2 linked regions of the Homo sapiens genome follow. The protein of the gene in region 2 binds, or shares a complex with, the protein of the main gene of each other region. Links are inferred from orthologs where the notes say so. Each region holds a gene or a part of one and is shown on either strand. Other genes may lie near its edges.

What was found.
Region 1: the proteins of RIMS2 (region 2) and UNC13A are in contact, whole or in part, in a crystal structure (PDB 2CJS), measured with the Rattus norvegicus proteins. The link is inferred for Homo sapiens from one-to-one orthologs. Residues at the interface, in XP_063118965.1 of Rattus norvegicus: Asp102, Gly103, Cys104, Ser109, Gln112, Val123, Leu125, Ser127, Asn128, Lys129, Val134, Met135, Trp136; in NP_074052.2 of Rattus norvegicus: Tyr23, Ile36, Trp65, Leu69, Ile70, Trp71, Asp72, Thr73, Met74.

Annotation. Positions count from the first base shown.
Region 1 is NC_000019.10:17,685,071-17,693,082, reverse strand, and holds the start of UNC13A (protein unc-13 homolog A), read left to right. Parts: upstream 1-4,728; 5' UTR 4,729-4,883; coding exon 4,884-4,905; intron 4,906-8,012. UniProt on the Homo sapiens protein: Plays a role in vesicle maturation during exocytosis as a target of the diacylglycerol second messenger pathway.
Region 2 is NC_000008.11:103,881,320-103,888,802, reverse strand, and holds part of RIMS2 (regulating synaptic membrane exocytosis protein 2), read right to left. Parts: intron 3,506-7,483; coding exon 2,580-3,505; intron 1-2,579. UniProt on the Homo sapiens protein: Rab effector involved in exocytosis. May act as scaffold protein. Plays a role in dendrite formation by melanocytes.

The DNA.
Region 1 (8,012 bases), on a different chromosome or scaffold from region 2:
GACTCCATCTCAAAATGTACCCTGTAACAATATATAAGATGTCAACATTAGTAGAAGCACTCAAGCCTAGATGATAGAGAGAGATTCAGTCTCAAAAAAAAAAAAAAAAAAAAAAAGAGAAAGAAATGGATAAAAGACTTGAACAGGCATTTCACCATAAAAAGAAACCAGTAATCACATAAAAAGTTCAACGTCAAGAGCAATCAGAAAGCAAACCAAAACCCAAATGAGGCACTCCTTCCCTCCCTCCACATAGGCCCAGTGAAAAAACTTGGACAATTCAAAGTGTTGGCAAGAACTTAGAGCCAGGCACGGTACCTCATGCCTGGAATTCCAGCACTTTGGCAGGCCGAGGCAGGAGGATCACTGGAGCTCAGGAGTTTGAGAACAGCTTGGGCAACATAGGGAGACCCCATCTAAAAAAAATAAAATGAGCCAGGCATGGTAGCACAGGCTTGTAGTCCCAGCTCCTTGGGAAGCTGAGACAGGAGGATCGCTTGAGCCCAGGAGGTGGAGACTGCAGTGAGCTGTGATTGCACCATTGCACTCCAGCCTGGGCCTCAGAGTGAGACTATCTCAAGAAAAAACAAAAACCAATAACAAAACAAAAACAAAACATAGAGGAACCGATGATTATACTGTGTTGGTATGATGAAAATCGCCAGACTCCCAATAAAAAACATGACATTATCAGGTGAAGCTGAGCATATATGTATTTTCTTTTCTTTCTTTCCCTCCTTTTTTTTTTTTTTTTTTGAGACAGAGTCTTGCTCTGTTTCCAGGCTAGAGTGCAGTGGCGTGATATCGGCTCACTGCAACTTCCGCCTCCTGGATTCAAGCAATTCTCCTGCCTCAGCCTCCTGAGTAGCTGGGACTACAGGGGTGTGCCATAATGCCTGGCTATTTTTGTGTGTGTTTTTAGTAGAGACAGGGTTTCACCATGTTGGCCAGGATGGTCTCGATCTCTTGACCTCATGATCTGCCCATCTCAGCCTCCCAAAATGCTGGGATTACAGGCATGAACCACCATGTCTGGCCACATATATGTATTTTCTGACCCAGCCATCCTTACTCATGTGTGCCAGCACACAAGTCTGAAGTCTGAGGATGGTCATAAAAACTTTTTTTTGTAATAAACCTGAGCTTGAAACAACCCAAAAGTCCATGACCTGGAGAACAGATGAATAGCCAATAGAAGATTCATACAAAGGAATACTATGCAGCAGTAAAAAATGCAAGCCTTACAGCCACATGCAGCGATATGGATGAATATCAGCAGAATCACATTGAGCAAACAAAACAGATTAGCAGTCCAGGTGCTGTGGCTCACACCTGTAATCCCAGCACTTTGGGAGGCTGAGGTGGGTGGATCACCTGAGGTCAGGAGTTTGAGACCAGCCTGGCCAACATGGTGAAACCCTGTCTCTACTAAAAATACAAAAATTATCACTGCAACCTCCATGGCCAGGCATAGTGGCTCATGCCTGTAATCCCAGCATTTTGGGAGGCCGAGATGGGCAGATCACCTGAGGTCAGGAGTTCGAGACCAGCCTGACCAACATGGAGAAACCCCGTCTCTACTAAAAATTACAAAAAAATTAGCTGGGCATGGTGGCACATGCCTGTAATCCCAGCTACTCAGGAGGCTGAGGCAGGAGAATTGCTTGAACCTGGGAGGCGGAGGTTGCGGTGAGCTGAGATCGTGCCATTGCACTCCAGCTTGGGCAACAAGAGCAAAACTCTGTCTCAAAAAAAAAAAAAAAAAAAAAAAAAAAAAAAAAGCCAGGCAAGGTGATGGGCGCCTGTAATCCCAGCTACTCGGGAGGCTGAGGTAGGAGAATCGCTTGAACCTGGGAGGCAGAGATTGCAGTGAGCGGAGATTGTGCCACTGCACTCCAGCCTGGGTGACAGAGTGCAGCTCTGTTTCAAAAAACAAACAAACAAACAGATTAGTAAAGAATGTGAACAAAGTCAAATGAGGTGGCTCATGCCTGTAATTTCAGCACTTTGGGAGTCCAAGGCAGGCAGATTGTTTGAACCCCAGAGTTCAAGACAAGCCTGGGCAACATAGTGAGACCCTCATCTCTAATTAGCCAGGCATGGAGGTGCATGCCTGTTGTTCCAGGTACTTGGGAGGCTGAGACAGGAGGATTGTCTGAGCTCAGGAGCTCACACCACTGTACTACAGCCTGGGTGACACAATGAGACCTTGTCTCAAAAAAATAGAAACATGCAAGAGGTAACCATGTATTGTTTGCTAAGGAGCATGTGGTAAACTATAAGGAAAAGGAAGAAAATGAAAAACAAAATTTGTGATAGTTCTTCCATCTGCAGGGAAGGATTATGAGATTGGGGAGAGGCACATGGGGGTCTTTTATTGTGATGGTATTTTTTTTTTTTTTTGAGACGGAGTCTCTCTCTGTCACCCAGGCTGGAGTACAGTGGCCCGATCTCGGCTCACTGCAAGCTCCGCCTCCCGGATTCACGCCTTTCTCCTGCCTCAGCCTCCTGAGTAGCTGGGAATACAGGCGCCCGCCACCACGCCCGGCTAATTTTTTGTATTTTTAGTAGAGACGGGTTTTACCGTGTTAGCCAGGATGGTCTCGATCTCCTGACCTTGTGATCACCCCGCCTCAGCCTCCCAAAGTGCTGGTATTATAGGCGTGAGCCACCGAGCCCGGTCGATGGTAATTTTTTTTATCCAAGCCTGCTCCTCATAGTTTATCTACTCATTGATGTTTAATAAAACATCAATGTTTTATTGATTATCAATGTTTAATAAAACATCTACTCATTGATGTTTAATAAAAATTTAAGACCAGGCATGGTGGCTCATGAGCCTGTAATCCCAACATTTTGGGAGGCTGAGACGGGAGGATCACTTGAGCCCAGGAGTTTGAGACAGCCTGTGCGACATGGTGAAACTCTGTCTCTACAAAAAATACAAAAATTAGCTGTGCTGATTTTTTTAAAAATTTAAAGCAGTGACAGATACAAACATGGTTACTATTAGGCATTAAGATTACAACTGGGGCCAGGCGCGGTGGCTCATTCGTGTAATCCCAGCATTTTGGGAGGCCACGGTGGGTGGATCACTTGAGGTCAGGAGTTTGAGACCAGCCTGGCCAACATGGTGAAACCCCATCTCTACAAAAAATACAAAAAAATTAGCTGGATGTGGTGGCGAGCGCCTGTAATCCCAGCTACTCAGGAGGCTGAGGCAGGAAGATCACTTGGAGGTTGAGGTTGCAGTGAACTGAGATGGTGCCACTGCACTCCAGCCTGGGCCACAGATTGAGACTACACCTCCAAAAAAAAAAAAATTACAACTGGTTTCACATGTTAACTCATGTAATACCTCCAGCAACCTTGTGAGGCAGGACTTGTTATCATATTCATTCTACAGGTGCGGAAACTGAGGCACGAGGAGGTCACAAGACCTGCCCAAGGCCATGCTTGTGATGAGAGACAGAGTTTGGTTTTGAACAATGGCCTCACTCAACTCCATGCACATTCTGCATTTATGAAGCTCTTTCATGTGGGCTGGGGGCAGGAGACCCTGTGGGGCTCAGCCTTTCATGCTAGTTTAGGTGCCAGTGATACAGCGAGCAGGTTGCAGGGCAAGGGGCCCACATGGAGCTGCCCAGTTTGATATGTGGGGAGGGGGCCAGGCGCAGTGGCTCAGGTCTGAATCCCAGCACTTTGGGAGGCCGAGATGGGCGGATCCCCTGAGGTCAAGTGTTCAAGACCAGGCTGGCCAACATGGTGAAACCTCGTCTCTACTAAAAATAAAAAAAATAAAATAAAAAAAAAAAGCTGGGCATGGTGGCATGCGCCTGTAGTCCCAGCTACTCGGGGAGGCTGAGGCAGGAGAATCTCTTGATCCCAGGAGGCAGAGGTTGCAGTGAGCCAAGATTGCGTCACTGCATTCCAGCCTGGGCTGCAGAGGGAGACTCCATCTAAAAAAAAGAAAAGTGGGGAGGAGTGGCAGAGTTTCGTTCGGGTCAGGGCCCAATCAGAGGAAGGGATAGGGGCTGGGGGAGTCCAGAGAGGAGAAACAAAGGCTCAGCTTGGGGCAGTCAGGGAAGCCTTCCTGGAGGAGAGGATATTCAGACAAGACATTGATGGATGAAAAGGAGTTCAGAGTGTGGGCAAGGACCCATGGGCTGGATGGCTTAGAGACATAGAGAGAGACCTAGACAGGATGCAGTAGAGCTGCAAAAAGACTTTACAGAGAGAGGCTAAGAGACACATGACTGAGAGAGCAGTGGACAGAGTCAGAGGAACAGAGACCCAGGGAGAGAAAGAGACCAGGCAGTAGAGTTAGAGAGACAGAGACGTAGAGACAGAGGAAGAGAGATACTCAGAGAACAGGACCATCTGCCCGGTGCTGGTGCCGGGCGTACACACAAGAGCTTGCATTTGCCTGTACTTGCTTGAGTATTGCAGGGAGGCGTTTGCCCAGGTTACCAGGGCAGGAATGTCCATGCATGGGTGGCGGGGGCACGTGCACCATTTCAGTGCAGGTGAGGGTCTGCACAGGAGGAAACCTGCTTGGGGGCCGCCGTCGCCCCTTGTCCCCCTGCAACGAGGAGGTGTGGGGCGAGGCGCCCCTTCCCGGAGCCAGGCCCTTTAACGCCCCCCCAGCCCGCAGCGCCCCCGCCCCATCAGGCGTCCCTGGGCTCCGCCTGCCCGCCCCGCATCAGCGCCACGTCAGGCGCTGTCCGCGCCCCCGGTGCTGAACCAAGATGGCCGGTGGCGGCCGGGCCCCGGCGTGAGCCAAGCGCGGGCTGCAGCCGGGAGATGCCCCAGCCCAGCGGCCGCTGAGCCCGACCCGACAGAGCCGGCCCGGCCGCCTCCGGCCCACCTGCGAGCTCGGAGACATGTCTCTGCTTTGCGTTGGAGGTAGGAGGCGAGGCTGGGGGTCGGGGGACCCGTGTGGACGCGGGCTGGGGTCGGGGTCCGCGTGGATGCGGCTCCCAGGGGGTTCCTGGGGGGTGACCCGAGTCCAGGTGGCTGGACTTTTGAGAGGGGTAGCCCTTGTCGACGCAGCTGGGCCCCGGAGGGGGTGATCCGTGTAGACGCGGCAGGGCTCTCGGGGGTCCTGGTGGCCGCTGCTGGAGGGGTCGTGTGGACGCGGCTGAACGCGGAGGCCCGTGTGGACGTGGACGGGTATCCGGGGTTCTACCCGGAAACGATCTAGACTGGGGCGTCTGTGTAGACCAGGTTTTTAGAGGGTCAGTGAGGAAGAGTCTGGGCTCGGTAGTTTGATTGAAGCCTGCAGGGGTGCTTGGAAGGGGTCTGGTGTTGTGGGCTGGGTTACGGGTCCTCATGGACGCGGACCCGGCTGGAAATTCGAAGGAGAGTGCGGTGGGAGGGTTCTCCAAGCCGTGGGGATGTAAGATATAGGTAGAGGGGCTTGGCCATCAGGGCATCCACGAGTTCTAGGACTCTCCCAGCCCTAGGTGTAAAGAGGACTGGAGTGGGGGGAGTGTGGAGACAGGAGACCCCTCCCAGCGTCCAGAGAGGGCTGTGACTGGAGGTCTGGGGGCGCTTTTCCAGTTAACTCTTTGGCCTCCCGAGTGAGGGGGTTGGAGGAATGTCCAGAAGGTCTTCCCGCTCCCTGCCCCCTCCGGTTCTCCCAAACACGTTTCAGGGCCTTCTCGGCAGGGAGCCTACTTCTTGGAAGAGCAATGTCTCCTGGTCCCCCTCCTGGCCCATCCTCACCTCACCCACTTTGCACTGGAGAGAGGGAGGGAGGGAGACGTGAGGTGGGGGGGGAGCTATTTTGGGGCCAGAACGCCATCTGCACAGAGGCCCACGCCCAGGCCCACGCTCTGCGTTGGGGTTGGAGGAGGGAGGGAGACGTGGGAGGGGCATGACCCCCCACCCCACACCTTTATGGCTCTGGGGTCGTGGGGAAGCCAGCCCAACCGAACCCAGGCGTTCTGGGCACTCCCGTTTGAGAAATCAAACTCTGGGAGACCTTGGGCGGCAGGGGTGGATGTGGACCGCCGTTCCACGCCTACAGAGCTCTGAACCCCTGGTTCTTAAGGACTGGGGTCCCCCCGTCACTCCCACCCATTTCAAGAAGGCTGGGGTGGGGGAAGGGGTGTGTCTGCCAAGCCTGAGACTGCAGGCTTCGGGAGACCTCGGGCGACAGGAAGCGTGCGTGTGCTGAACTCCTGCTGCCTGGACACAGGGTGGGCAGGCCGGGGAGCCGGGAACCGCCCCCGCCGCCCCTCCTCCTCCCTCCCCTCCCCCTCGGCCGATTCATTCACAAACCCTGCCCCGCCCGCCCGCTCCCCGCCGCGGCAGCTTCCGAGTGCAAATCCGGCCGGGCTGGGCCGGCGTGGACGCGGGTGTTCTTAAAGGGACAGGGGCCTACTTTCTCTAAGCTCGTTTCTGCTGGACGGGGCTGGGGGTGGTGGAAGAAGGGTCCCTAGAGTCAAAGGTCAACTCCTCCATCCCCTAGCCTCCAGGCCTATGGAGTTAGGGGAGTAGGGAAGTGAAGGAGACCCCTAGGCGACCCCCACCGCCTAGGCCTGAGGACGGAATGGGAGGAGAACTTGAATGTCCAGACCCCCTACTGACCTCTCCCCCTGCTCTAAGTAGCCGGGCTCTTAAAGGTGGCACTGGAGGAGGTTCCGACGTGGGTGTTCTTGGCTGACTCCTCTATCCTCTCTCTTCTCCCCCCAGCATCCCGCCCCACCCCGCCTCACATCCTCCAAGTTGGGCTTCTCTGGAAGGTTTGCCTAGTGGAGTGGGGGGGGGGGGGGGGGGGCGGGGATCTCACCCTTAACTCTGACGCAAACAGGAGGCTCGGCTGCGGGGGTGGCATTAAGGGGGGGCAGCAGGAGGCAAGAGGGATGAGGCTTCCAGAAACAGAGACGTTGGGGGAGGACTGTGCTGGATTCTGTGGACTTTACAGGGAGGGGCCCGGCTGAGTGGAGAGGAATCGCTGGGAGGGGCAAGGCTGGGGAAGAGGTTGACAGGGGTGGGAGGTAAGGCCCTCAGGTGTAAAGGGAGGTGTGAGGTTGGAGTGAGGAGGAGTAGGAGGCAGGGAGGGGTGGGGAGAGGGAGAAGTGCTGGGTGAGGCCAGTCTCCCAGGGAGAGGTGGGATGGTGCCCAGAGAGGGGAGGGGCTGGGATGGCTGAGCACGAGAGATGTTGGGGTGGGCTTGGCAGGAGTGAAGCTAGGCTGAGATGGGTTGCCGTGTTGCCTGAGCTCAGCTGAGGAAATACCTGTCCCCCCTCCCCTCCACCGGGGACCCACAGGCGTTTGCCAATCCCTACACACATTCATACCCAGACTTGTTCCTGTGTGGACACAAATGCTTAGGATGTATGAAGGCTCTACGCAGACCATGTGCCTGGGAAGGCACATTCCGTAGGCACACGTGTGTACTCAAATGCCTGTGTGAACACAAGCATACACGTGTATATAGGACACAGTCTGCCGCTACAGATATAGTCCCAGCAACACACGTGTGAGTGTGTGTGTCTGCCAGCACGCATATAGATGTATCCACGTGTCTGATGAATGCTCACAATATACATGTCACATAAAGATCCACCCATGTCCAGCCGAGCGCGGTGGCTCAGGCCTGTAATCTCATCACTTTGACTTTGGGAGGCCAAGGTGGGCAGATCACTTGAGGTCAGGAGTTCAAGACCAGCCTGGCCAACATGGTGAAACTTTGTCACTGCTAAAAAATAAAAAAAATTAGCCAGGTGTGGTGGCGCGCACCTGTAGTCTCAGCTACTCGGGAGGCTGAGGAAGGAGAATCACTTGAATAGGGGAGGTGGAGGTTGCAGTGAGCTGAGATCCTGCCACTGTACTCCAGCCTGGGCAACACAGTGAGACTCTGTCTCAAAAAAAAAGATTCACTCATGTCCTAACACTCAGACATGTACCCATACATATCTGTTAAGGTCCCCAACCCCATGAAGCACATATATATTCATATAAGCACATGTCAAAGCCATGTGTGTATGCACATGACAACACTT
Region 2 (7,483 bases):
AAAGTGAAAGCCATTTTTTTCTATATTTGATAAATGTTTTAGTTTTGCTAATTTGTTTCAAATAGGATTTTAATTTAACTCATATATACCTTTTTACTTATATGAGACTTTTATAAGTGGATACTTCAGAATACTAAAATAAAGATATCACATATAAAAAAGCTTTCAAGCACTGAATTGATACATTTCTGAGTTTTTTACATTTTTATGTGGTACAAGTGAAGGCATTACTTTAGCAAAGGATAATAGAAATACCTACCAGATAGAATCTAAACCAAACCACCAAAGATAACAAAACTATCTTTTTTCTTATTTTTTAGTATCATGATATACTCTGGCAAATGTGAAAAATGACCAAACTAAAGATTATTAAATATACTTAAGGAAGTACTACAGCTTAGGGAAAATAAAATCTCTATATACTCCATAAAAAAAATAATTAAGATCGATAGTTGCTCTTTATAGATAACTATATTTTAATAAGCAAGTTTTTCTTAGTATTTATCATTTGAATGCAACAAATATGAAATATCCCTAATGTGATTTTTTAAAACTTCATATGCATTTCCCCAACCCTATTTGTTGAATAGTTTATCTCTCCCCACTTGGATTGTTGTGCATTTTATATTTTATCATTTATTAGTTTTAATATATTATATTAGAATTTCACCGATATGTCCAAATTTTCTATCAGTATCACATTTTCAATTATTGTCATTTTATACTATCTGGTCAAGTGAGTTCTCCCTCACTACTCTTAATTATTCTTACAAGTGTTGTTTCTTCCAGACTAACTTTAGAAATAAAATACTTCAAGGGTCCAACTGGTATTATGTCTAGAATGTTATTAACTCCAAGAGATTATCTGCAAAGAGCTTGCATCTTTATACTACTTAGCCTTCCTAATTAGGAACATGAAATGAACCGCTACTCACATCTTCCTTATGTTACTCAGTAAAATTTTATGGCTCTTCCTGTGGGCCCCTCATTTCTTGTTAGTTATTTTTATATCACATTTTTTATTTTTAATTCAGAATGGAAACAATTAATGTGTTCTAACTAATTATTTTGGTACAGTATAAAATGATTCCATAATCATTTCATACCTAGCTCCTTTCTTGAATTCCCTTAGTGATTCCTGTTGATTCGATAAACAAAAAATGGACTATTCATCAAATAGTATAAGGAAATTGGGGGTAGGAGGTTGGTATGATACTCATCCATCTGGTATATTTTTGTCATACACCAAAATAAATTCCAGAATGTTAAAAAAGTTAATGGTTAAAAATAATTTAAAAATGAGATAATATACAGTTAAATACTTAATTGATTTGGAAGCGAATAAAGAGCTTTTAAAGATGAAAATAATGGAAAAAAATCACCAAATACAAAGGTTTAGATACATTAAATTCAACAGTTTCAAATAAACAAATTAAAATACTAGATAAACATTAAAATGAGAAATGTATTTGGCAAATAATAGTTAAATGGGGTAAAATCCTAACTATATAAAAAGTGCTTATAAATCAATAATAGAAAAACTAATACCCAGAGAAAGATGGGCAGAAGGAATTAAAGGAATGAACAGATAATTCACAGAAGATATCAAATGCAGATAAACATATAAAACATTCAACTTTACAATCAAATTCAAATTAAAATGACAAAGAGAGCATTTTTGTGGCTATTCAATTGGCAAAGATTTGGTGAATTGAGACTGAAAACTCAAGTACATCTGATAAGAGTAAAGCATGTTACAACCTTTTTGGAAAGCAATTTGGTAATCTGAATTAAAGCTTAAAATAATCCAAAGTACAAATATATATTTTTGAAATACTCAAGAGATGTAGGCAAAAAGTATGTATAAAGATAACCATTATAATTTTTACATTGGCAAATGGAAGCCACAGCAATGCCCCAAATAAAGAAATATTTAGTTGTGGTATAATCTTATGATAGAATATTAGTGTAGCTATTTAAAACGTATTACTAAAGAACATCTAATGGCTTGAAAAAAATCATTTATGATGTGATAACAATTGAAAGCATCAGTATACAAAATTATATATAGCATGATATCAATTTTATAAATCTATAAACCATACATGCATAGGAAAAAAAAGAAAGAAAATACAATAAAAGGTTAACAATGGTTATATCTGGGGGAAGAAATATGGATAACTTGCATTTCATTCTTTATGCTTTGAGGACTTTTTCAGATGTTTTATAGTGAATATATTGTTACTTTTATAAGGAGACAAAAAATAAATGTTATTTTAAAAACTACAGTTAATGGATATTTTTGAAATATGCTGTCAAATGATACAAGAAAACTTTCAGAAACAAAGCAAGAAGGCAATTTTTAAAAATCAATAGAACATCATTCTGTCGTTCTTATACATGAACAACAGAAGATACTTTTTATAACACGAAATTTTCTTCACACGTTCGATGCCATTAAAAGACTTTTAAAATAAAGCTACTAGTAATACCTATTAAATTTTCACTCAGAAATGCAATCTATTAAAAAAAACGCTTATCTAATCAATTACAGCAAAATGTATGATTAGAAAGCTTACCTTTTTCACTTACACTCTCACTTTCAATCTCAACATCATCACAACTTGTATATTCAGGCGTGGAAGCCAATTCCTCCTCTGAACTGCTCAACGAAATCTGGCGCATTTTACCGCCTTTCTTTGATTTATGAGGCTTTGGTGGTGGAGGTCTCACTGACTCTGACTGGTCTGAACTGAGAGAATCATTCCTTAACATTGTTTCCATTTTTTCCCGTTTTGTTTTTCTTACAGCAGAGCTAGGATCTAAGTGGTGCTGTTTCCGTAGTGAGTCAGTACGCCTCAAGTCTGGTCTATCTATGGGTAGTGGACTCCTCCTGGGGGTAGGAGGACTATGGTTTGTGGTCCTTTGTGCATAAGAACTTGGTCCCTGAGCCTCTCGAGTTCTTTCCATTGAATAAGATCGCTGATTTTCCATGGCAGCTCTACGTTCTGATATAGATCTTTGCCTTGATGGTCGATCCATCCTTAGCATAGAAATCCTGGAATCTTCCAGATCAGCATTTGCCAAAGAAACATCACTATGCCTTCTCTCATGCCGTGCTCGGGACACTTCAGCATGGATCCGCATTTGTTCTTCATAGGGTTGTGGCTTTACTGGATAACGGGCCAAATTCGGATCACTTCGGTAGCGTGACTGGTACTCTTCCTCTCTCCTTTGCCTTTCGTATTCATCTCTGCTTTCCACATCCTCATCATCTACAATATATTCTTTGGAATGCCTATGACTTCTCCTGTTGGAGTCCCTATAACTTAAATGATCAGAGTCTTCATAAAACTGAGGTTCATGTTGAGATCGCCTATCAGCATAATCTGATGGAGATCTAGGCATTGCGGTATCCGAAGTAGCATACTGTGAATATTCCTCTCTTTCTTCCCTTTGGTCGTATCTTCTATTCTGATCTCTGGACACAGATGGGCTTCTTTTCCTAAGTAACCAAAGGAAAAGAACAATGAGAAGAGCAAAAGTTTATCAATTTTACATTTCATTGATTTGCTGGCAGGTTGATGGATAACTAAGTAGTCCTTTTGCCTTTTTAAAATTTCATTTTAAAGGCATAGCGTAACAATGGTTTTAGTAGTATTCATTATATTCAGTTCAAATAAGTACTTTGTTGTGGTTATTAAGTGCCTGCAACACTATATCTGGAATATGCTTATGCTTGAAAATTAGATAATATGATATTCCACTGCTATAAACTAGCATTTATTCTAATTTCCTTGCTTGGTTTGCTACGTACACTTCCACTACCCACCAACTATTATTCAGCAGCTTAGAAAAATATTTCCTCCATCTTCTCTATACCTAACATGCTGATATGAAAGTTACCTGAAAATGTAATGAAGCCAAACTGATTTGGCTCAAGAGTTGAATACTTTCTGACTAAAATTAAGTGCTGGCTCTTAAAAATCATTTTTCATTCATCATCTTCTAGATCATTCCTAGTATTGGTTCACCTAAATTTTCATTTTATCATCATGTCTCCAACCCTTTTTTATTGATCTAACTTGAGATAAGCAATAAAAATAGACAAATAATAATGATTTATTCATTACAAAAATCCTAGAAATCAGAAAAAACTGCTATTTTTATTCCATCTTCATTTAGATTAAGAACAGCTTGGTGATATTATTCTACTAAGTCTCCACATCTGACCCCTCATATTTCCTTATAGTCTCAGAGGAAGAAACTGCTTATTACCTTCTCAACTTACCCTTCTAACACTGGTAAAACCTAGTGAACCTTGCAATAAGACATGATACCCTGTTAACAAAATATTCACACTAACCTTTTCTCTGGAATAAACTTAGATAATATCAACTATTAATCATGAAAAGCAATAGGATTAGAATCCTGAAGATAACAGAAAAGGTTTAGAAAACTATTATGGGGATTTTGCCAGGACATGAACAGGAGACAATGAAAGAGTGAAGTCAGCTGAAGTTAAAGATGACTAAGATTCAACAGTTCAGTTGTGAATTTCTTAGTCAATGGTTTCTTAGCCCAAAAGCAAGAGCAGATAAAGGATACAGTAGAATGACCCAACCTGGCAAAATCAGCACTCTTCTCTAATATCTCCCCCGGGTCACAGAATCCCTTTTCCCCTCATATTTGGAACACAGTCTGCCAATCTACCAATTAGGTTCACTAACGAAAACAGAAGTTAGTCTAGGTTTTCCAGGTAGGAAGGGTTTTAATTCAGGAACCAGAAGCTACATAACAGTTGAATGGGCGACAGGAATAAAGGCCAAGAAAGTTAATGCTGATGATCTTAGCCTGAAGATGCAAAGACAAGGGTTCTCAAAATGGACACTAGAAAGCTGCTGTGAATGTCAGGAGTCTATGGAAATCTGCCAGCAATTACCTGTACCACCTACAGCATCAGGGTGGCCAATTAACAGGAGTTTGCCCAGGAGCCACTAAGACTTTTATATCTGCCCATCTGCTAGCCAACAACTAATGCTTGACAATAATGGCTTCTGTATATCCTCTACCTTTCAAATCTCATGTAAGTACAAAGCCAGGATAAACTCTAACCTGGAACTATAAAGGAATAAGTACTGTAGAAAGTGAAAAAATTAGTCTATCCCTTAAATGTTTTATAATTAAGAAAGTGGATGTGATATTTTTTAGCATTTACATTTATATATGAAACACTTAGGACTTAATTACAAATCTTTTATATTACAATTGTTACATAAAACCATAGATTCCTACAGTTTAAAATTTACAATCAAAACAAAACATTCAAAAAAATTTATAGTACCCAACACCCTATGTTTCTGTGTATATGTGTGTGTGCACTGTGCATCATTCATTTCACTTTTGTCATTACTTTTATACATTTGACTAAAAAAACTCTAGCATGATAGTAGTCTATCATGAAGAGAACACTAGATTTAAGGAATCTACAGTTCTTAGTCATACTTTTGTAATTAGCCAGTTATTTCGAACTATATAACCATTAAATCCTTAGGAGTTTGTGCTTTAAATTGAGAGGCATAGATTTTACATGTTAACTTATATATTACTTTAACAAACATATATTAGGTTAAGAAATAAATGCCACACACTATCTTATAAATTAGGAATGCAGAAATGATTAAGACACCTTCCTTGTTCTTAAGAGGGTGAATGATTCTAAAACCATCTTCCATTTCTTAGGTACTATGATTTTACAATATTGATACCACAACTTCATCAAGTTAATAAGCCTACATGAAAGCTTAATGCATTAAAGATTTCCCATAATACATTTAATGTTAAACTGAGTATTTTAGGATAGAAGTTAAAAAAAGGAATATTTCATTCCTATCTTAAGGAATTAACATGAATTTTTGAAAGTAAGTAGAGTATAAAGTGAATACAATGAGTCTTTATAACAGGGGATTATATTTTATCTTACAGATAAATAAGAATATTTACTTCCTATTATGGAATTCAGTTCCAAGAGAAAGGCTATTAATAATTAGTCACTAGCAAGCCATCTAAGTACTTTTTAAAAATCATACCTTAGGAAAATTGAATTCAATGTTAAATCCAGCAATCACATTGTTCTAGAGATTATCAAATTTGCCAGAAATATGTGAATCATACTGTAGATGTCGATTTGTACTGGATTTAAGATTATAACCACTATAAAAATGGAACAGTGGTTATAATCGGAAATTGGGATGACTACTGTCACTGTTACAAAGACTTAGGTTTTCAAGAATACCCTTTAAGGTATAGTACCTTACAGTATGTTAACACTATGCGAGAAACAAGGCAAGATTTCATTCTAACAATACATGTATCAAACAATGAAGAACCTGCAATCAATTATTTCAAAATAATAAATATTCTATCAAACAATTTTTACCAACTATATTATGAATTACTTCATATATACTGTCCTTTAAATTTTAAACTTCTATATTTCATAGATAGTATATTCCTTTCAGGAACTAAATAAAATCAGTGTAAATTCAAGTAATGTGTTTCTACTGTATATCTTTGCTATTGGCCTTTATAAACAAGCCTTAGCATTTATTATCATCAGGTGGAAAATATTTAATAGATAAAGCAATATCATTGATAATTTGTATATTTCTCTACAGAACCATAAGGCATTTAGCAGTATTTAATTCATCTGTTATAATACAAAGGAAAAGGAACGATTCGTCTAGGATTTTACATTTCACTTAATCCTTCAAAGACCCTGAGAAATTAAGAGGCAGAATCCAAAATTATGCCTTTCTTTAGTATAAAATGTATTTGTGGCATCATATAGTGCCTTAATCTTTACTCCTACGCATTCTATTATCCTTATTTCTGTTATAATATCAGTATATATTTATATTCACTTTATATTTACCTAATATCGATTCACTTCTCTTTATTGCCACCTGTGTTGTTAGAATTGCTTTCTCTTTTGCCAGAGTATTCTGTCCTTAATTAGAACCAGTTTATAGAAAACCACATTTTAAACATCCTAAATCTACTGTAGTAAGTATCATTTCTATTCCTTGCTTACAATTGTTTGTCATGTGGACTATTCAATCTATTTCTAAATATTCTAGCTTGTATAACACATCTGATGCTCCATTATAAATGTTATTCTAACTATGCAAAATAGTTTGCGTAGGAAATCCTACCAATTAGACTCCTTAAATTCTATGTCCAAAAAGCATACTGACTGATGGGAAAACTCCAAAGAAGCTTCTTTCCCAATTAAAATCACTTCCAGATTTCCCAAAGGCATCCAGGGTTTACATGCCATAAATTAATTCATCATGTTTTTACCATAACTTCCATTTTAATATTTACAGGCTTTACCATCTTAAGTGATTTGTGTTACTAATACCAGCTATAATTCTGACCATATTGATAAAAGAATCATCAAATCTCTGAAAATATAGTCTAA